2 separate regions of the Homo sapiens genome follow, and region 2 is linked to region 1. A link means that fine-mapping ties the variant in region 1 to the expression of a gene that starts in the linked region. Tissue or cell type: whole blood. Region 1 holds a variant in brackets; the other region holds the start of a gene. All regions are shown on one strand. Distances are from middle to middle.

What was found. PIP is the estimated chance that this variant, and not a neighbour inherited with it, causes the effect.
Region 2: it holds the start of PHF11, and the variant in region 1 is fine-mapped to the expression of PHF11 in whole blood (INTERVAL, PIP above 0.99).

Annotation. Positions count from the first base shown.
Region 1 is chr13:49,520,887-49,533,646 of GRCh38, forward strand. It overlaps SETDB2-PHF11 (SETDB2-PHF11 readthrough), which reads left to right. Exons shown (of 21, transcript NR_135324.2): 15 at 8-54; 16 at 1,157-1,221; 17 at 2,289-2,355; 18 at 3,199-3,330; 19 at 4,887-5,051; 20 at 5,501-5,572; 21 at 7,625-8,090. PHF11 (PHD finger protein 11) reads left to right here. Exons shown (of 10, transcript NM_001040443.3): 5 at 8-54; 6 at 1,157-1,221; 7 at 2,289-2,355; 8 at 3,199-3,330; 9 at 5,501-5,572; 10 at 7,625-8,090. The coding sequence ends at 7,779. RCBTB1 (RCC1 and BTB domain containing protein 1) reads right to left here. Exons shown (of 13, transcript NM_018191.4): 13 at 11,060-12,760. Among named protein-coding and RNA genes, the nearest start is that of PHF11, 31 kb to the left of the region's middle. The variant T/A (reference allele first, on the strand shown) is at 7,350.
Region 2 is chr13:49,491,790-49,502,476 of GRCh38, forward strand. PHF11 (PHD finger protein 11) reads left to right here and starts at 4,164. Exons shown (of 10, transcript NM_001040443.3): 1 at 4,164-4,306. The coding sequence starts at 4,213. All of the region lies in intron 12 of SETDB2-PHF11 (SETDB2-PHF11 readthrough), which reads left to right. It overlaps SETDB2 (SET domain bifurcated histone lysine methyltransferase 2), which reads left to right. Exons shown (of 14, transcript NM_001160308.3): 14 at 1-3,214. The coding sequence ends at 60. RefSeq lists enhancers at 2,970-3,655, 3,966-4,205, 4,696-4,745 and a silencer at 4,226-4,505.

The sequences.
Region 1 (12,760 bases):
ATTTCAGACTGCTTTGCCAGCAACATGCTCAATTCCCGATCATCGCTCAAAGTGGTAAGTTTCTAAAATTTAGCACTGTGGGTTTTAAAGAAAGGTAAACATTTATGTAACATAAGGAATAGTCTAATTTTCTAGCCTCGTTGAATTAAAATACAAATGTTTGAGTTAAAATTTTACACATCTAGAAAATTGACAACTTCTTTGTGTACTATGTGATATGACTGACTAATTTTTTCTTCTTTATGAACAAGACCTATTCTCTTTGAACCATTCCCTGGTATCTTTCATTCTCCCTACGCTCACAGAACCAAACTAAGACATGGGAAAAAGCCTTGACTTTTGGGACTGCTTCTCTTCCATAAGAATTTTCAGTAGATAAAATTTTAAAAGTGCTGCACCTTCCCTGAGTGAAAATTCCCTAAGGATGCATGGTTAGCATTTCAGTTCTAATTAAGGCAGACTGGATCCTGGCTAACTGGAGTCATGGGGTATACTTTCATTCATGAGTGGAACAGCAGTGTCTTAGCAGCACTACATCTGCAATGTTCATTGTGAAGTGGAGTCAGGACCTCGTTGGAAGACTTCGTTCTGCGTCATGCCAACTGCATTTTATGGTGATAACATTCTCCAAATAGCACCTCTACAATCATTTTTCAGTCGTTACCCTTTTAACTCAGCAGGAAAGGCTATTACAGATACTTCTTTAAATCAGTGTTTATTGACAGGGAAAAGCACCAGCAATACACACTTAACCAAATCCTTGCAAATGTCATCTATTAAATATCTTCATCCTTATTAGTCTGTTTTACTTTGAATATCTTCTGAGTGAAATTGAGTGCATTCCCATATCTTTTCACCAATTATATTTGTTTTCCTATGACCCAATTTGTTCATTTTTCTATTCAATGAACCCTCTCCCCAGAGAGTTCCCCATGTGCCAATTTTTCTACTCAATTATTTACCTGTTTTGCATTAAACTTATAATATCTTTTTTAAAAATTAACCCTTTATCATAAGTGCTGCAAACACTTAGTTGAAGTTTGCCATATCTTTTGACTTTGTAAAAACTTTTGGCATATGAGTTGTATATTTCATGTAGTCAAACAGTAATCTTTTCCTTTATGGATTCCAATTTTTAAATGGTTTATATTTTTAGCTAAATTTTCAGGAGTGAAAAGAAAAAGAGGAAGGAAGAAACCCCTCTCAGGCAATCATGTACAGGTAATTTGACTTAGTTTTTATAGCTTTGCATTTCTTCATACAGAGTCCTTATTTAAACCAGTCTGAATGTCAGGTGAAAGGTACTTTCCAAATCGTCCAAACAGAGAGCCTTTGAAGAACATTCTTCATTTGTGTTCTCAGCTAAGGCTGCTCCTGAGGTTGCCTTTTTAGGAAGAATCCCATAGTCGGGAAGCTCTTAGATAATTCCTAGATGATAGAATCATGATGAGATGAGCATGAAAATGAAGCTGGAAGTTCCAAGCACATAACCTTCAGGAGGTGACATTCTCCGAGCTCCTATAAATTCCCTGGCACCAAACTAGTGAGAGCATCTGACCCCACAGGTGCTTACAGTTAAAACGGGCAGAGGGTGCAGTCAAACATCCTTATGGAGCCAAGTATTTCCCAGCTGCATGACCCACACCTGACCAAATCTGTAGCTCTTATAAATTTCTGGATTATGTATAAAATGTATGAAAATATTTTGGGGATTTGAGTTTTTACACATCAGCACATATAAGCTAAATTCATATGCGCCAGCAACCTTCACCTCCTCCTGTTTATACAAGGGGTGCTTGTCAAACACCTCTTAATGTTTTATAATACAAAACAAAAATATATTTGATGTTTACATCTAAATATGAATATGGGGTTTTTTTGTTTTTTTTTTTTTTTGAGACAGAGTCTCTCTCTGTCACCCAGGATGGAGTGCAATGGTGTGATCTAAGCTCACTGCAACCTCTGCCTCCTGGATTCAAGTGATTCTCCTGCCCCAGCCTCCTGAGTAGCTGGGATTACAGGCATGCACCACCACGCCTGGCTAATTTTTGTATTTTTAGTAGCAACAAGGTTTCACCCTGTTGTCCAGGCTGGTCTCGAACTCCTGACCTTGTGATCTGCCCATCTTGCCCTCCCAAAGTGCTGAGATTACAGGCGTGAGACACCGCGCCCAGCCAGGGCATGATTTTTACTGTAGGCATATCATTTAGTTATGCACAGCAAAAGACTGGTTTTCATTTTATGCAATATTAAAATCAATGTAATGCAATCTTGATTTTCTCTCCTAGCCACCCGAAACAATGAAATGTAATACATTCATAAGACAAGTGAAAGAAGAGCATGGCAGACACACAGGTTTGCGCTAAGTGTTGTCTGTAACAAATATGGCCTACAATACTTATAAAAATGTCAACCCACCTGTTTCAAACTTGGTATCCCGCCTAAATCTTTATTCTTCTAGGCTTGTGGTAATTAATGAGTATAAATCTTTATCGCAACTGTCCACTCTATTGTAATCCCAGCATATCAAGATAACTTAGGTTGGAATGGTCCATTGCATTCAGTATTAAGAAAAGATAGACTTCTATTAATAAAGACACAGACAGGCTTGCCTGAGCTCAGAATCCAGCAATGTGTCACCCCTCACACTGTGACCCCTGTAACTGTAGTTCTCTGTTCTTTAAAGAAATAGACATTCCACTAACAACACATACAAACTGTGACAAGAAGTGACAGGGGCTGTTATGTCAAAGACTTAAGGGTAATTTTTAAAAATCCTCTTAATTCAACTACATATCGGGTACAGTGTACACTGCTCAGGTGACAGGTGCACCAACATCTCAGAAATCACCACTGAAGAACTTATCCATGTAACCTGAAACCACCTGTTCCCCAAAAGGTATTGAAATTTAAAAAGTTACAGTTTTATATGTTTAAAAAAGCCTCTTAATTCATATAGTTATTGTAAGCAGAGAAATTTTCATTTTTACTTTTTGTAACATTTTATTCATTGTTTCAGCTGGCCAAAAAAAATGAGGTATGATGAAATTATAATTAATAAAAAGGGTGAAGGTGCTGTATTATTTTACTAAGTATGTGCATCCACCACTAGGCAAGGTCTGAAGAAATAAGCATAAAGTAATTTATGATTAGCTGCCCTAAGACTATTTCCTTCTCAAATGTTTGTCTTATTCTTAGATGCAACTGTGAAAGTTCCTTTTCTTAAGAAATGCAAGGAAGCAGGACTTCTTAATTACTTACTTGAAGAAATATTAGACAAAGTTCATTCAATTCCAGAAAAACTCATGGATGAGACTACTTCAGAATCAGGTACTGATGAAGAGCAATATTTCGAAGTATAGAGACTTCTCCCAGATCTAGATTTAAAACAAAACAAACCCAAGAAAAAAAAAAAGGCCCATTTTCTTCCTATACTACTTTTTTCTTCTATCAGCTTTTGGAAATGCTTACTATTTATTTCACTTTTTGGTTTTGCCCTATAGAAAATAATCCCATTCAAATAAACATTTTTTATATTGTTGCCTACAATATAAGCTGTCCAGCTTGTCATTCTTTACCTTTACCTCATTCTTTTTTTTTTTTTTAAGACGGAGTTTCGCCCTTGTTGCCCAGGCTAGAGTGCAGTGGTGCGATCTTGCCTCACTGCAGCCTCTGCCTCCCAAGTTCAAGCGATTTTCCTGTCTCAGCCTCCTGAGTAGCTGGGATTTCAGGCACACGCCACTACGCCTGGCTAATTTTCTGTATTTTTAGTAGAGACAAGGTTTCACCATGTTGGCCAGGCTGGTCTTGAACTCCTGACCTCAGGTGATCCGTCCACCTCGGCCTCCCAAAGTGCTTGGATTACAGGCATGAGCCACCATGCCTGGCCCTTTACCTCATTCTTTAATAAAATAATTGGACCAGATCTACTATCCTTCATAAATCAACAGGATGTGGGTAATTTACAAACTCAGTAATTTAGTCAAAAGTAACCTCATGCCCTGAGAGTTGTGGTACATTTTCCAGAGGTGTCTAACAGGTTGGCCACTAAGAGAATGTGCCATTCAGAGATTGATTCGGTCACATATGCTCCCCTGCCACCGCCCTGCATTCCTGTTGCTAAGATCTGAGAACAGTGTTATGTTACAGTTTTGATTTTGGAATCCAATTCTATTCCTTAATAAGCCAAGTGTCCTTTTTTAAATAAGGTTAACTCAAACTTTAAAGTATAGAAGAAGGAATTTTAATGTTTTGACTGATGTTTGGTTTAAAGATGTACTTTGTTAAAGAAGTTTCTTTCTTAAGGGCTCTTTGGGAAGTCAAAGTTCCATTTGTATGTGCAGGTATATAGCTACTTAGCTTTTTGTTTGTTTGTTTTTGAGGCAGAGTCTCGCTCTCTCTCCCAGGCTGAAGTGCAGTGGCATGATCTCAGCTCATTGCAACCTCTGCCTCCAGGGTTTAAGTGATTCTCTTGCCTTAGTCTCCAGAGTAGCTAAGATTACAGACATGTGCCAACACACTCGGCTAATTTTTGTATTTTTAGTAGAGATGGAGTTTCACCATGTTGGCCAGGCTGGTCTTGAACTCCTGATCTCATGTGATCTGCCCGCCTTGGCCTCCCAAAGTGCGGGGATTACAGGTGTGAGTCACTGTGCCCAGCCTTACTTAGCTTTCTTATAACTTATATCCCATGAGTTTAAAACCTTTATTATAAATATAGTTATTTTACAAGGACAAGCTGGACAGCTTATATTGTAGGCAACAATATAAAAAATGTTTATTTGAATGGGATTATTTTCTATAGGGCAAAACCAAAAAGTGAAATAAATAGTAAGCATTTCCAAAAGCTCATTTATTATACTATTTTATTCATTTATTTCCTCTAGACCAAGCACTTCCCAAACAGTGTGCCTGAGAACCACCTGTAGGGCTGGTGAGGACACAGATAGCTGGGCCTATCCCACAGAGATTCTGATTCAGTACAAATACCAAGAATTGGGGGCCAGGCGCGGTGGCTCACGCCTGTAATCCCAGCACTTTGGGAGCCCGAGGTGAGTGGATCATCTGTGGTCAGCAGTTCGAGACCAGCCTGGCCAACATGGCAAAACCCTGTCTCTACTAAAAATACAAAAATTAGCCGGGCGTGGCGGTGCGCGCCTGCAATCCCAACTACTTGGGAGGCTGAGACATGAGAATCGCTTGAACCCAGGAGGCAGAGGTTGCAGTGAGCCAAGATCGCACCACTGCACTCCAGTCTGGGCAACAGGGTGAGATTCTGTCTCAAAAAAAAAAAAAAAAAAAAAAGAAAAAAGAGAAATGCCAAGAATTACATTTCTGACAGCTTCCCTGTAGTGCTGCTGCTGCTGTTGCCATCTAACATTAAAGTTCCATGGCACATGACTGCTCTCTTTCCTTTCCCCTGTTTTGGATTACATATATAAATGGAGGAGTTTCTGCCTATACAAACTGTTTAATATTGAAAATGTTTCTCTCCCTCCAGACTATGAAGAAATCGGGAGTGCACTTTTTGACTGTAGATTGTTCGAAGACACATTTGTAAATTTTCAAGCAGGTATATGAGTTATATAACATCTGAGCAGCATAGTTTTGAGAAATATTTATCACGATATTGAAACAATATACTGTACAGGTGATAAAAATATTTTAGAAGAATGTTCATTGTTTTCTTAAATGAGAAAAGCCAATTACAAAAACAGTATGACCCCGCCCACCTGCCCACACACACAGGAAAAAAATATCGAGGTACATGTGCACAGACAAAAGCTGCACCTGGTGGAGACAGTAGTTGGTTGTAGGTAGTTGGAATATAGTGATTTTTGTCTGTTCTTTTACTGCTATATTTTCCAGATTTTCTATATACACACAAATACTTTTATAATGAGAAAAACTCATTAAAAAAGTAGAGACAACAAAAAATTGATTCAAAAATTGGAGCATATTTTGGCCTGTGTGTGGCCCAGGCAGGAGCTGGTAAAGCTTCCTGCGGCTTCTCTGCTCTTGGGTGGCGAGGCTATGATAAACCATCCCTCCGCTTGCCTCCCTCTCGCTTGGTGAGATAGGTCAAAATTTTAATTCTCCCACTATTAATCCTCAAATCTAATTTAATTTCTTATCAGGGAGGGTTACGACTGATTTAAAGTTCATCAGAAAAAAAAAAAACAAAAACAAACAAACAAAAAATGAGCAAGTAAGAATAGCCAAGAAATGTTTGCAGTAGAAAATCTCGTTTGGTTTGGAGGAGGGAGATTTAACCTTCCTATTAAATATCAACCATTTATTGAGTGAGTCCTCCTTTCAGCATTAAGATGCCCTCAAGACAGGCTACACCTCCACTTGTTTATGAGTCTGGTCTGACTTCTCTATCAAGGCTGCCACACACAGCTGGGCAGGCCGGGCACAGAGTCAAACAGCATTGGTGGATGGCTCCCCCTGAAGTTGCACAACAGAGTGAGTGCCCTCCACACTCTGCATTTCCACAGATGCATCTGTCTCTCCAGCATATGGTAGGAAGACAATAAGATTTCCCTGTGAAGAAATCATTAGTTCATATCCCTGTCTCAACATACACAACCTTTCTCATTTTGGCTTCTATATTATACATTTCTATTTGAATTTTTTACTACATTTATAACCAGCAGGAAAAATACTTTGAAAAATCTACCAAAAAGAGTGTCTGTCTTAATAGTCTTTTGAGGATGTCTGCTAATATATAGCAGTATCCATATTTTTTTAAAGCAGCCTTAAAAATTTTTTTCTAAAAAGAGTTATTTTGTAGGGGACTTCCATGTGTGTTTTTCTTTCATGTAAGGGAACATGTCACACATCACTACTTGGATGGATTAGGTGGGAGTACATATATTATAGTGTAGTATGGCGGGGGTGCCACTACTTAGAACTGCATGAGATTCAACTTAAAAGGCTTAAGTTGGGTTTCACTACCCTGGTTGATAAAAACTTGCTTAATTTAGCCTTACTCATATTTTAAGTTAACTATACGTATGCAGTTATTCTGAATAAAGTTTGTATATGTGTGTAACTGTTCGATTTTGAGGCTTTTAAAAATTACATTGCCATTGACTACTATTTGTTATTTATAAAGCCTAAGTATCTTCCTCCTAAGCTTTTCTAAGTTTCCACAATTAAAAGCCTTCCTATTTCTAAATGAAACCAAAAGCCTTTATGTAACATTAAAAATTGGACACATTTTTAGGAAGGATTTGTCCTTAACCTTGGTATTCTAGCCACATTCTCCAATTATCATCTCTCAATAAATGGATATAGTATAGCATGAAGGTTATACAGTCACTGTTTTCAAGTTCTCAAAGATA[T/A]ACAAAGGGACTTGTTCTGCTATAAATGTGCACAAAATCTTAAGGGTTTACTGAACAGCTTTGTGTATGATAAATGTTAGAATTCTGTCCTGAATTAGAAGGAGGAAGTGAAGGCATAAAGAAACCAGCTCCTGCCCATAAGGCTCTGGATCCTTTTCACCAGAGGCACGAGGATTGTGTATCTGTACCTGCAAGTGAAAGGGGCTAGAAATGGTACATTATTTCTAATAAAACTACTGAATAAGCTGAAATAATTTTATTTCTTCTTTTCATAGCAATAGAGAAAAAAATTCATGCATCTCAACAAAGGTGGCAGCAGTTGAAGGAAGAGATTGAGCTACTTCAGGACTTAAAACAAACCTTGTGCTCTTTTCAAGAAAATAGAGATCTTATGTCAAGTTCTACATCAATATCATCCCTGTCTTATTAGGGATTACCGTTTCCTAAGCCAAGAGTCATGTCAAATTGCAATCAGGCTCAAAACCAGAGACCAGGCTGTGAAATCCACACATCTTTAGAACTAGTCGTCTCCTCTTGGCCTCAGCAGCTCTTCCCTGTTCTTACTGGTTGACATTTTGATCACTCTTTGCACACTCTTGTGTTTTTTGCTCACTGTCACATTCCCAGCACCTAGTATGCTCAGTAAATGTTTGTGGAATAAGTGCATAAAATGTTCTTAACCTTTGATTCTACTTACAGCCCATGATAGCCTCTTAGATATAATAAATTTGGATTATACTACTTTACTTGTACCAAATTTGCCTGTTTTCGTGTCACAAAGTCTGCTTTTGAAAAGTCTCTTTTCAGCCACAGTTATCACGTGGAGATTCATCATCTTCAAAACAGACACCTAAATTTTAAATTGGACTCTGAATAAGAACATTATCGGGAGTATGCAAGAATGAAAAAAAAAATTGACAGTTACATTTTTCTCAATCTAATATACGATTCTGGTTTTTATGCCCACACTATCACGTCTGACCCCTGAAAACTTAACATTCACAGTTCTCATTTTTTACCATGGTACTCTGATTTTCAATAATGCTGCGTCTCAAAATGGGTTTTAACTGAGTCTCCAAGCATGGTGTCTGACATGTAATAAATAAGTACTGGAAAAATATTTGCAGGAGATGAAAAAGAACAGTCCATTCCAGTTGTAATGGCAGCCCTAGCCTAAGTTCTTATATCTTAGGGACAAAATCTAAACCAGTGGATTTCAAATCCGGCCGCACATCAGAATCATGTGGGGCACTTTAAAAACTACAGAAGTGAAGACCCCATCCAACACCCTCTGAACAGATTTCCGCTAGTCTAGATGATTATTGATTACTGTAGCTTCAGCTTCCTATCCTGATATTAAGTCTTAGCAAAGTTTTTGGTTGTTGTTTTGTTTTGTTTAAGACGGAGTCTCACTTTGTTGCCAGGCTGGAGTGCAGTGGTGTGATCTCGGCTCACTGCAACCTCTGCCTCCTAGGTTCAAGCGATTCTCCTGCCTCAGCCTCCCAAGTAGCTGGGACTACAGGCGCGCACCACCATGCCCAGCTAATTTTTGTATTTTTAGTAGAGATGGGGTTTCACCATGTTGGCCAGGATGGTCTCGATCTCTTGACCTCGTGATCTGCCTGCCTCGGCCTCCCAAAGTGCTGGGATTACAGGCGTGAGCCACCACGCCCAGCCATCTTAGCAAAGTTTATCTGACTAATCATTCTGATGTCATGATCTTTATTTAAAAAAAAAAACCTTTGTCCCCCACTTTACTTTCACGTTTAACCTGTGACTCACACAGCATGTAACTGTGCACCATGGAGCACCATGTGTTTGGTGGCCATGAGGCTGGCTACTGGGCAAACCCGAGTATGGGTTCATAAGGCGGAGCCGAGTATGAACTTCAGCTATGTCACTACTGAAAAACTTGAATCCGATTATTTAATCTGAGAATGCTGCTGCCTACCTTATGGGACAAAATATGGACAAGTAAGTAAAATGTGAAGCAGAGAGCACAATGTCTGGCACTATGGGAAATAAATGTTAAAACACACCCATGCACGCACACACTCCCCTTGCTAACATTTCTGTCTTATTTTCTCCATTCTAACCAAACTTAATTATGATAAGCTCTGGAAGGCTCATTAGCCCCCATCTCTTGTGCCTCTTTTTGTTTTGGAGATGAGCTAAAAGGACACTTTATATTTTCCCCTATCCAACACAAGCGTTATCTTCAGAACAACTAACTGCTTGTCATGTTAACCCTATTAACTGTATTAGTCCGTTCTCACACTGGTATGAAGAAATACCAGAGACTGGGTAATTTATAAAGGAAACAGGTTTAATGGACTCAGTTCCGCATGGCTGGGGAGGTCTCAAGAAACTTACAATTGTGGCGGAAAGGGAAGAGGCCCGTCTTACGTAGTGGCAAGTAAGTGAGAGCACGCAAAGCCCAGGGGGAACTGCCATTTATAAAACCATCAGATCTCATAAGAACTCCCTCAATAGCATGAGAACAGCATGGGGAAACCGCCCCCATAATCCAATCACCTCCCAACAGGTCTCCCTCAACAACTGAGGATTACAATTCAAGATAAGTTGGGTGGGGACACAGAGCCAAACCACATCATCCTATTTGGTTTTCTCTCACTGACTGTTATGAAAAGCTCTTTATAAGTATCTCATTGTGTTGTTAATTCCTAAACCTATCTCCCTCTCTCCTAATAATTCATATGTTCTTTGAGGATAGGGAATATGCCTTTCCCTTCAAGTACCCCCAAAGGTACAGACACATTTTTCTACTGTGCCAGTTCAACTGTACTACCCTTCAGCAGGAATAAAATCCAAAGATTTCTATGATGTTTGTTTGTGTATAGTTGAGAATCAAGCAGTTGACATGTTCATGCTGGTACCTATTTTTAGCCTGATACCCATTAAGAATCACACCACTGATTTTTTTTATTATGGTAAAATATATATATAACCTAAAATTTGCCATCCCAATCATTTTTAAATGTATGGTTCAATGGCATTAAACATTCATTTTTGTGCAACCATCACCACCATGCACCTAAAGCAGCAGTCCCCAACCTTTTTGGCACCAGGGACTGGTTTCGTGGAAGACAATTTTTCCACGGACCATGGGGATGGGGCGGTTGGTCAGGGGTGGGGAGGATGGTTTTGGGATGAAATTGGTCCACCTCAGATCACCAGTCATTAGATTCTCATATGGAGCACACAACCTAGATCCCTTGCATACTCAGTTCACTGTAGGGTTTGCACTCCTATGAGAATCTAATGTTCTAATGTTGCCACTGATCTGACAGGAGGCAGAACTCAGGCAGTAATGCTCACTCATCCGCCACTCACCTCCCGCTGTGCGACCTCTTCCTAACACGCCAGGGATGAATATGGGTCTGTGGCCCGAGGGTTGGGGACCCCTGACCTAAAGGACTCTTCATCTTGGAAAACTGAAACTCTGTATCCATTAAACAAGTTCCCCATTCTCCTCTCCCCTCAGACCCTGGCAATGACCATTCTACTATGTCTCAATGAATTTGACTAAGTATATCACACAAATGGCATCACATAGTATTTTTCTGTGAGTGGCTTATTTCACCCAGCATAATATCCTCAAGTTCACCTCTGTGCACCATGTGTCAGAATTTCTTTCCTTTTTAAGGCTGCAGACTACTGATTTTGAAGGAAAAAAACAACTCTATGTGCCTGTTTTAATGTTACTTTGTTTATTAACATGTCGTTCTAAATATTACATAAATACAGCTTACATACTAGAGTATCAAACATTGTTCCAGTAAGAAGTTCAAGAGTACATTTAGGGCTATCTTAAGAAATATGAATACTTTGGCTTCCATTATTACATTAGATGAAAAAATCAATTCAAATAAGAGTTGTCATATCCTGCTATGATTAACAAAAAAACAAGTAGAAAAATAAGAGAGTGTATTTAAAAAAAATAATCAAATGCTTTTTGAAAGACCTGTTCTCTTCACTGCCACACATATTCATACAAATGACTTAGTAATCTAATATGAGAAGTGGTCCTTCACTTATATTAGGAACTTGGTAAATATTTGTTGAATGAATGAACTATCTATGGATATGAATTTACTACTTTAATTTGTGCTTTTTTTGAAAAAAAGTTTTCAAGTAAGAGCAATAGTAAACATACTGAAGTTCACATTTTGCTCAGATCATAAGCCTATAGAACAGTGATTGTTACAAACACCACCCATCATAGCACAAATCAATGTGCATTTCTGAAGCTAGTAAGAAAAGTTCTATCATGTTGTAGAACGAATTCTAACCGACTAATTCACTGGGCTTCAATCACTTGTGATATGGTCAAGAAAAGGGGGCTGGGGCTCCTAGGCTTGTATCTATTTCAGCTATCAGTGAATTCCTATCTTTAGGGCCTCACTCCCCTTCCCACCCCAATAGACACAAATTTAAAAACATTGCTAAAAATAGTAGTTGTAGCATGTCTTCACCCACTTGTAATTTGGCTCTGAAAATGTATTCAGGCTCCAGGTTCAGAAGAGAGACTTTCCAAGCAGGAGACAAAATTCACTAAGGGAACTCACTCAAATGGAAATGAGTTCATGGACCAGAGAGCAAAGCAAAACATTGCTCTTAAAAGCAAGCTCAACGGACACACATGATGAAACTCACAGTTGAACACTCTTACATCCCAAAGTCACCTTCCATAACCAGTTCAAATAAACTACTGTCTTTTAATAGGATCTTTTCAGGAACACCATAATTTTGGTGCTTTTTCAAGGTGAAATTGTGCTGTTATACCTAAGATGTTTAAAAACAGAGGAAAACCAAAAGTGAAAGATGATAAAGTTTCACATAAGCCAATGTGTGATGGATTTGGCCTAAAGTAGATAAAGCAAATTCCACTAAGTCTTGTAAGAGGGTTGACTTGAAGAACCACTTCTTCCAGTCATATATAGTAGATATGATGATTCAGCAGTCATAATTTAGGAAGGCAAGAGTATACTATACATGTCATTATTTTCCTCTTAAGTTTGCATTTATAGAAGAAGGTGGTGGGGGACAATTTAAACTTGAGTTCTCAAGTTCTACCTTAATGAAATAAAACACCATTGGATAAGTAGTGGAGATTCTAATTTATAAAATATTCACCTTCATCAAATTTCTTTCATTATCAACTTTTCACGGATACTTCTAAATTACTATTCTTTATGCACTTAAATCTTAAGAGAAATCTTGACTAACCTAGAATATTTATCTTTACATAATTATCATTTCAACAGGTTTAATATACGTTAAACTTATTACTTTGATTTATCTTGAAGTTAAAAAAGTCATCAACGCAAGCACACAAACAAAAGTCTGAAACAATCTTAATTATTCCTTCACAGTAAGGCTACTAAACT
Region 2 (10,687 bases), 30 kb before region 1:
CCTGAGAAGGAAATCTTCTGCCAATGTGGGGTTAATAAATGTAGAAAAAAAATATTATAAATATGTAACTAACGCCTGTTTGTGAAATTAGCTTATCAGGCTGAAATTAAAGCCATGCAAAAGAAGGTCTAGGTCCATCAAGGAAATTCCCCTCCGTTTTCCTTTGTCATGGGGTTTATGTTTTATTTCAGATTTTATTTGTGTGACTTAGAAATTCCAGGAACACAATTAGGATATTTTCATACACATAGGGTATCTTGTTCACTGCTGTGCTACTTTACATGAGTAGGATGGAAGTGTATATTTTATATGAAATACCACTGTACAATTTATAATTTATTTACAAATTATATATTAAGAGAAACAAATGTCATAACAGAACTCAGCTGTTTCTAATTGCTTTTGTGACTGTTACCTTTTAGTTCATGCCCCCCCAAAGAGCTAAATTTCACATTTTTACCTACAAAATTGATTTTTAATTCCTGGCAAATAATTTACCATTATGAGCTACAAGGTGGGCAACAGCGCCTGAGGATCTAATTTTATGCATATTACTCCCAAGTATTTTAACACTTGTTGGAGAAGCAATATCTGGATCGATAAAACACTGTCCCATCAACCATTTGAGTGGGGAGAGGGAGAAGCTCTTCTGTAAGTAAGATTCTGGCAAGCTCTTTGAAATGAGTCTTCTTTCCCACAGATTTTCTCTACTCTTTCTATACAAACAGATAGGAGAAGAGGGAATAGAAACCTGGAGGAACTTGAATATTTTTGTTCTAGATAGAGATACAGTTACTGAAAAGGAAACCTAGAAAGTAGTCACACGTTGCTTATTTAGGCCAGAAGTAATTGTACTGGGCAAAAATTTCACTTAAAAAACACAAGAAGTCCAGGTATGGTGGCTCAGACCTGTAATCCCAGCACTTTGAGAGGCCGAGGCAGGTGGATTACTTGAGCCTAGGGGTTCAAGACCAGCTTGGGCAACATGTCAAAACCCTGTCTCTACAAAAAATACAAAAATTAGCCTGGCATGATGGCATGTGCCCGTAGTCTCAGCTACTCAGGAGTGAGGTGGGAGGATCATTTGAGCTCAGAAGGTCAAGGCTGCAATGAGACATAATTTCACCATAGTACTTCCAGCCTGGGCAATAGAGCAAGACTCTCTCTCAAAAAAAACAGCACACACACACACACACGAAAACAATTCTGAACTATGAAATCTGAAACAGCCCCTTGGTATCTCCTGGGCATGATTTGCAAATCTTTTTTTTTTACAGAAAAAAGGCAAAGAGTAAGCACTTTGCCATAGGTTACTTGGCCGTGATCATCTATCTAGTGGAAAAGGGGACTGGGAAGCCCAAGCAGACTGGGAAACCAGACAGCTAGGAAAAGGAGCAAAACATAGCCCAGCAACCTACAGATGAAGAAAGTTGAGAAATCCATTTATTCACCATAGAGACGCAGGAATTTCAGGCAATGCACTAAAATGAAATGGGGGAAAAAAGCTTGATCAGTATGGGAACCATTTTTGTGCAAAAGGGAATATTATGGATCAGCCAGTATTTCTTTGAGCTCTGCCTGTGGAGTCCATTTGACCTTTAGAAATATGAGGTATTCTGTCAGTTTTATCTTCTTGGAGAAATTTCTCCTAAAATCTTGATTTGCTTTAGTCTGGACTGGTTCATAGCCATCATCTTCCATCAGTACCCCAGAGATTCACTTTGTCTCTTATGTGGGATCTGTTTCCAGTTAGATGCCATTATTTTCCTTTTCCTTGGTTTACTCTTCCACATATTGGTAAAGCTCTTCCAATAGCTTTTGGAAAGGAAAAATGAAAAGTAAATGTTTTGAATCTCTGTGTGTTTGACAATGTCTTTATTTTACCCTTATACCTGATTGCTGTTTTGGTTGGCAAGGTATAGGATTCTTTAGTGGTCTCCATGCCCAGTTTTGAAGACATCTGCTAGCTTTCAGTGCTGTTGCTGTGGAGTCTGAAAATCTGTCTTCTGGCTTCCAGGGTGACTACTGGAAATTGAATGCCATTCTGTTCCTTCTCTTTTGCATATATAATCCATTTTTATCTCTCTTGAAGCTTATAGGTTTATCTTTGTCTCAATGTTCTGTCCCTGTTAAGAGTCCATTTTCATCCTTTGTACTAGGTGCCTGGTGGGATCATTCCGTCTGAAACTAATGATTTCCCATCTCTTCACTGTTTCTGGAATTCCTGTTTTCCAGATGTTAGACCTCCAGAATTTGATCTCTAATTTTCCTATCTTTTCTCTTAACTTTCAGCTCTGTCTTCTTGCTAGGACCTTTTCCTAGGAGCATTTCTCAATTTAATCTTCCAGTTCATCTGTTGCATTTTATTTTTCTAGTCTCATATTGTCTCATATTTTTAATTTCTAAGAGCTCCCCTTCTCCGAATATTCTTTTTTTTTAATAGCATCCTATTTTGGCTCATGGTTGCAGTATTTTATCTCCTTGAAGATGTTTGTGTGTTTATGTATGTATATGCACACACGTATACATACACATACAGGCATGCATCTCTGTATTCTTTCGGCATAATCTGTGTCCTCCAGGGTTTGTTTCTTTGTTTCCCCTGTATGTTTGTTTTGGTCGTTCACATTATAGGCTTTCCTCAGAGTTAATGGTCTTGGTAGTCTACTCATATTTAAGTGTGGAACACCAAAAAGCTTACTATAAGCTGAGAGTGTGGTAAAGGGCTCTTTGTTTTACTATGACCTACCTGAGCTATCTTGCTGGGGAACACCCTAATGTCAGTCTCTTTATAAAGGGCCTTTCATTTTGGCCTGGCAAGAAATACTCTTTCATCCTCCTGCATGGAGGGCAAAAAAAAATTTAAAAATTGGCTGCTAGGGTCTGTCTGCTCACTTCCCTGTTTTGCAGACCCCACACTCTTCTGCAATTCATTTCATAGTTGTCAAGACTATACAAATTGTCCTTTTTAATGTTCTCTCTTCTGCTATCCCTAGTTGGCAGTCTTCCTCTTTACAACCTGCTGAAAGTGGAAGACCTCCAGTTTTCCTTTAATTCCTCAGCAAACCACCAACTATTATATGTCTTTTTTCCAGAACAACTTATTTTTTAACTATAATTATATGCATTTATGTTAGATTCACTGAAAACCTCATCTTGTATGGTGCTCTGTACCCTATGGGTGCTAAATAAAGGCTTGCTACTGGCAACTGGATTTAGGATCGGCTAATTCTGCGTCCTTTTAAGATATGCTTATTTAAGCCAAACTCGGTATGATAATTTTTTTTTTTTTTTTTTTTTTTTTGAGAGGGAGTCTGGCTCTGTCGCCTAGGCAGGAGTGCAGTGGCGCGATCTTGGCTCACTGCAACCCCCGCCTCCCGGGTTCAAGCGATTCTCCTGCCTCAGACTCCCGAGTAGCTGGGATTACAGGCGCCCGCCACCAAGCCCGGCTAATTTTTGTATTTTTAGTAGAGACGGGGTTTCACCATGTTGACCAGGCTGGTCTCGAACTCCTGACCTCGTGATTCGCCCACCTCGGCCTCCCAAAGTCCTGGAACTACAGGCGTGAGCCACCGCGCCCACCCGGCCAGTATGATAGTTTTTAGGAGGAACCCTCAGGAGAGTGATTGTTTCTCCCGCTGTGTTGTGGGGGGTGGAGTAGGGAAGCCTGGCGTTTGGGGTTTTTTTGTTTGTTTGTTTTTTGTGTGTGTTTGTTTGTTTGTTTGTTTTGAGACGGAGTCCCGCTCTGTAGCCCAGGCTGGAGTGTAGTGGCGCGATCTCGGCTCACTGCAAGCCCCGCCTCCCGATTCAAGCGATTCTCATGCCTCAGTGTCTGGAGTAGCTGGGATTACAGGCACCCGCCACCATGCCCAGCTAATTTTTGTATTTTTAGTAGAGACGGGGTTTCACCATGTTGGTTAGGCTGGTGTTGAACTCCTGACCTCGTGATCCGCCCTCCTCGGCCTCCCAAAGTGCTGGGATTACAGGCGTGAGCCACTGCTCCCGGCGTTTGGGTTTTTTAAGCTATTCAAATTAAGACTAGACTGGAATCTGGAGCAGTGTGTGTGACAACCCCTCTCTGCACACCCAACTTTCCCCGGGCCGGCTAGTGACTCAAAGCGACAGCCCAGATTTAAGAAAACGAAACCTAGTGCAGCTGGGGCACTTCCGGGATCTCGCTATCCGGCCGCCACCCGCAGCTGCAGCACAGTCATGGCCCAGGCGTCGCCGCCCCGGCCCGAGAGGGTGCTCGGCGCCAGCAGCCCGGAGGCCCGGCCCGCGCAGGAGGCGCTCCTCCTTCCCACCGGTGTGTACCGCGGGGGCGGGCGGGCGGGCGGGCGGGGCTGGGCAGCGACGGGCCCGGTCAAGGGGCCTGCCTTCCGGTCGTGGCCGCATGGGGGCCCGACCTGCCCCTACTCCGGGCCGGGGCCCTAGACGCCGGGGCGGCGCTGGACGAACTTGGCTCACCACTCGCGTGCCTGTTGGTGGGGGAGGGGGCCAGAGGACAGGGCGCGGCCCAGGCCAGTTCCACAGGTGGCTCTGACTGCCCATGGTTTCGCGCGAGTGGTGGGCACGCTTCGGTTTACCTCCCCCGCGGGTGACAGCCCAGTGCTTCCACCACAACCGATGTCAACTCTCCTAGCGCCCCTCCGCTCACCGGTAAACCAGGACAGTGGAGGGGCGCCCTGATGCGGTGAGGCAGGGGGCGGCCCTGAGGGAAGAGCTGGGTCTCACGTTCACGGAGGACGTGACTGGAACCCGTCTCCCCTTCTCCAGTCGTTCCAGTCCTCCCCGGCCCTCTACTTGAGTGGGTGGGTCTTCTGATGGGTTCCTGCCCTTGCGTGTGTGTATAGCTCCAAACGGTGTGCCAGGCTCAGGGCAAGGTCCTGAGCATACAAAGATGAGTTAGGCAGACCCTGCCCTAGAGACTCTACTAGGCAACTTTAATGAGGAGGTCAGAACCACAGAGGTACAGATGAGAGACTCCTGACTCCCAGTCTTCAGGGAAAGCTTTTTGAGGAGAGGATGGCTGGGCTTACCCTTTTTTTTTTTTTTTTTTTTTGAGAGGAGTTTCACTCTTGTTGCCCAGGCTGGAGTGCAAAGGCGCTATCTCGGCCCACTGCAACCTCTGCCTCCCGGGTTCAAGCGATTCTCCTGCCTCAGCCTCCCGAGTGGATGGGATTACAGGCATGTGCCACCACGCCCAGCTAATTTTGTATTTTTAGTAGAGAGGGTTTCTCCATGTTTCATGGGCTTACCTTTAAAGGGCAAGACTCAGCCAAAGGTGGAAAAGTTGAAGGGGTGTTCCCAGCAGAGAGGATGACACAAAGGCACCAAACCACAAAACGTCACACGTAAACATCATACGTGGCAACCACAAGCCAATCAGTTGGATATTTCATTCATTGGTATACATATGGACTGTAAGGTAAGTCACGGGAGATGCGCTTCCATCCTGACCTCTTCCTCAAACTCCAGACTGGTATAACCAACTTCTTCCATTTCTGAAATGATCTCAAACTGAGTATGTCCCAAAGAGAATTCTTGTTTCCTCCACTGTATTCAGGTACTCCAAACCTGCTCAACCACCAGCCCATTCCATTCGCCCAGGTGCTCCTTGCAAAAACCTTAGTGGCTCCTCAGGGCCTCTCTTTCCTCCGGACACCCCTTCTAATGCATCAGTCGGGCCAGCCAGTTCTGTGTTCAGCCTGACTGTATCTGGAGCCTGACTGCTTCTCACCACTTCCATTACTGCCACCCAAGCCTACGCCATCATGATCTTCTGTCTGGACTATTGCTTTCCTGGCTTCTATTCTAGCCTTTAATACAGGCAGGCCTGCAGAGCGGCCAAAATGCTTTTTGAAAAACAAAAAGCAAATGTGATTCTCCTACTCAAAACCCACCAATAGTCTCCCATGACTCTCAGAACAATCTATGAGCCTGGCCTGCAGTTTACCCCATGTCCTTATCTGATTTGACTCCTGCCCATCTTAATGACTCTGCTACCCTGCTACCTTGTAGGTCCTCTAAGCCACCAAAGCTGTCCCTGCCTCAGGATCTTTCCATTTGCTATTCTCTGCAAGGAAAACTCATTGCCACATTATCCCATTTTCAGTTCCCCATCATATTCAGGTGTCTGCTCATATACATCTTCCCTCAACCTTGCCTGCCCATCCTGTCTAAAAGAGCACCCCTTGCCCCTGCTCCTGTCACTCTCTACCTCCTTCTGCTCTATTCTTTCTCTATAGTACTTATCACTACCTGGAAAACAAAACAAAACTTGTTTAATGCCTGTCTCTACCACTGGCCACTGGCATGTAAATTCGTCTTACTCTCTTCTATCCTTAGTGCCTAGACTGGTTGGCCTAGTAGTAGTAGTAGGACATAGTAGGTACTCATTAAATATTAAATAATAGTAAGTCCTCATTAAATATTTGTTGAAGGAATGAATGTACTTGTATATAACACTACGGAGCTTGACTTCTGTAGGTGATGGGGAAATATGAGCAGATGTCCATTTCAGGTAGATCATTCTGACAGTAACATAGTACATTTCCGGTAGATCATTCTGACAGTAACCTAGCACATTTCTGGTAAATCATTCTGACAGTAACCTAGTACATTTCCGGTAGATCATTCTGACAGTAACCTAGTACATTTCCAGTAGATCATTCTGACAGTAACCTAGTACATTTCAGATAGATCATTCTGACTGTAACCTAGTACATTTCCGTTAGATCATTCTGACAGTGACCTGGTACATTTCAGGTAGATCATTCTGACAGTAACCTAGTACATTTCAGGTAGATCATTCTGACAGTAGCATAGTGCATTTCAGGTAGATCATTCTGACAGTAACGTAATACATTTCAGATAGATCATTCTGACAGTAATATAAAGAATGCAGTGGGATCATGACAGGGAAAATAGAGACAAGGACAAGAGATCACTGGAATAGACTAGGTGAAAGACCCTGAGGGTAAGGCAGTCCACCTTCCACACCGCTGCCAGCACTGTCTTTCTCTTAAACACACATGGGCACACACACATATAAACATGTGAGTGCACACACACAGATCAAGTAAGTCATGGTCCTTCCAGTGTTAATAAGCACGTACTGGCTGCAAGTACTACAAAAACAATTTGATGTAATTTAAGCATGAGGGATGCTTAGTAGTAGTAAGCAGGAAAACCAGACTCACAGACCCCCAGAGCATGGATACTTTAGCATCTTACAGAAAGGGCTGAGGACTAGGACCTGAGAAGCCATTATAAACTTTGACAACACTCTCCTTTATCTCTTATTTCTGCATCTCTCAGTGTATCTGCTTTGTTCTTCTCTTTCTCTGGTCCAGTTTTCCTGGTGATGGTATAGAAGATGGCTGCCCTTGCAGCCTCTCAGTTTTTACATCTTCTTTAAGAAACCAGCCCAATCTGAACTGAAATCTTCTATCCTGAATTCTGTATATCTGAGAGATGAGCAGGTCCTCTGGGACTATCAGCTATGTCTAGAGGAATGAAGTACAAACATGCCTGCTGGGGGTCATTGTGTACGCATCATTGTGAGCTGAACAGATACCCTAAAGGAGTCCATTGAATATCCTATCCTTAGGCTCCCCATGGTCCCTCCTCTATAACACACACATCCTTATTCCTATTTATACATTCTAAAGATATTCCCAGTGATGCATTCTGTTCCCAGTAATGAATTCTAGCTATACCAAAACCAAATTCAGTCACACTTAACTTCTGCCAAAGTCATATCTAGCCACTTCATCCTGAGATAATGTGATGGAACCATTCATTCTCCAAGGCCATTACCAAGTTCCTTGCCAAGCCTCTAGGTAATGTCTACTGTTTTGGTCTGTATCCAGTTCAGGTAGGCATTCACTGGACCAGTGATAAAATTGGCTTCTACACATCCAGCAAACAGTGGAAGAACTAAAATAGTAAATTGCAATAAACACTAATGATAAAAGGAGAAGAAAGGAGGAAATCTCCAAACCAGCACCATAAATTAGTTACCTACCAGTCCAGAACAAATCTATACTGGAAGGGGATTCTAAATGAAATGATAGGATTAGTGAATCCCATTCCAACTGTTTCACCCATTTCTTTAGTGGCAGAATGTGTTCCTTGACCACGCTTCCTGGCTACCCCAGATTCTGTGCCCTGGGTGGATTACCCTTGGCTGGAGGGCTTTAAGAGTAGAAGCTAGAGCCTCGGCAATCCATTTCCACATTGAAGAGGGCCTGCAGATTGCCGGAGAGATTAAGAATCACTGTGTTGTTTGAATTAGTCATAGTTCTTATATTCCAGGCTTGTGATCTTTCTGTGGTTTCATTCTGTATAAACTTTCTTGGCTCTCAGTTTCATTTGTGAGAATTCTAAAATTCTGCAATCTTGTCGGGTCAGGCTCTGTGAGTCCTCAGGGTTGCTAAACCCCCCTAGAAAGGAGCCTGGAAAGCCCTGCTGACTATTCTTGGTCCCAGCTACTGATGAAAACCAATGGGCTCTTCCCTAAAATACCTCAGCCTTCATGACACACCTTTAGGTATCCCTCCCTCTCTGAATCTGTACAGTTCCTGAGTTCAGATGGTGAGGGATACCAAACTGTCCAAATGTATGTGGTCCATGAGTTTCGGATAACACATAGCAAGAGTTCAGATAGTGAGAGATGCCTGTCTGTGTAAAAGTCCTCAGTGTGACTCCCATAGTGAGAGATGCCTGTGTAAAAGTCCTCAGTGTGACTCCTCCAACTGCAGAGAATTACACACTTCCTCCAGTCTAGAAGATCAAAAGAGCTAGAAGAGCCGAAATCCATTAAGACACTGTGATATGGGGGGATTTAGCAGGAAAAAGCCACTAGGGAGAACCTGTGGGTCCCACCCCATGTTTTTAATCCATCTGCACTGAAGACAAACTCTGGGTCTAGCACAGCAGTGTTGTCAGCATATCTGTCTTGTCTGTCTTGTTCTTCTCTGTATTCCCCGTTGTCAGAGAATACAAACCACCTCTGTATTCCCAGATGCCAAGACTCTTGGAACCCAAGTACTTGGGAGCTCAGCTCAGGTATCAGTGACTTGACAGCTCTGCCCAGTGCACAGAAACAAGCAATGTTGTACAAAAATGTTCAGCCCTTATACAACAAGAGGCAGCTGCATATCCTGTCAGATAGTATCGCTTTTAATTTGGGAGTCACCAACTTTTGTTTTTTTTTTTTTTTGGTTTTTTTTTTTCTGAAATGGAGTTTTGTTCTCATCGCCTAGGCTGGAGTGCAATGGTGCGATCTCGGCTCACCGCAACCTCCACCTCCCAGATTCAAGCGATTCTCCTGCCTCAGCCTCCCGAGTAGCGGGGATTACAGGCATGCACCACCACGCCTGGCTAATTTTGTATTTTTAGTAGAGACGGGGTTTCTCCATGTTTGTCAGGCTGCTCTTGAACTCCCGACCTCAGGTGATCCGCCTGCCTCGGCCTCCCAAAGTGCTGGGATTATAGGTGTGAGCCACTACGCCCAGCCCCACTGGCTTTTTTTAAGCCTGTACTTTACAAGTTTTAATGTCTGTTTTGAGTGTCCTTTAATAAGAACACAGTATTCTATCAAAGTAGATTTTGGGTCTGAGGTAATTAGAATATTGGGATGTTTTTCCCCCAGTTTCATCCTAGGGCAGGGGACTTTGTGTTGTCAAATATTAACATATATTCTAAAACATTGAAAATTTTAAGTGTAGCATTGTTCAATGGAATAAAACAGAAGCACAGGAGGAACAGATCCAACTATATGAAAAGGAGATTTTAAATTAGTGGCTAACCATTATGAATATAAGTTAGATTCCCATCTCATACATTACAAAACAATTTATTCTATGTTCATGAATAGTTTAATTCTTTTTTTGTTTCATTTTGTTTTGTTTTTTTGAGGAGTTTCGCCCTTGTCGCCCAGGCTAGCATGCAGTGGTGCAATCTCAGCTCACTGCAACCTCCTCCTCCCAGGTTCAAGTGATTCTCTTGCCTCAGCCTCCCGAGTAGCTGGGATTATAGGTGTCCGCCACCATGCCCGGCTAATTTTTGTAATTTTAGTAGAGACAGGGTTTCACCATGTTGGTCAGGCTGGTCTCGAACTCCTGACCTCAGGTGATCCACCCGCCTCGGCCTCCCAAAGTGCTGGGATTACAGGTGTGAGCCACCGCGCCCGGCCAATATTTTAATTCTAAAATTAAATTAAGGCAGGACATGGTGCCTCATGCCTGTAATCCCAGCACTTTGGGAGGCTCAGGAGGGAGGATCACTTGAGCCTAGGAGTTCGAAACCATCCTGGACAACATGGCAAGATCCCTCCTCTACACAAAAATTTAAAAATTAGCTAGATGTGGTTGCATGCACCTGTAATCCCAGCTACTTTGGAGGCTGAGGTGAGAGGATCACTTGAGCTGGGGAGGTTGAGGCTGCAGTGAGCCATGATCATGCCACTGCACTCCAAGCTTGGGTGACAGGGCAAGACCCTGTCTCAAAATAAATAAATTGATTAATTAAAATAAATTAAAATTCTAGAAGAAAACAGAGGTAAGTGTTTTCTATGTCCATCTCACCCAAGAGCAGAAATCATAAAATAAATGATTGTTGTAATTTCATCAAGTAAAACATTTAAATATTCTGTATATCAAAGAATATTATAAACAAAGTT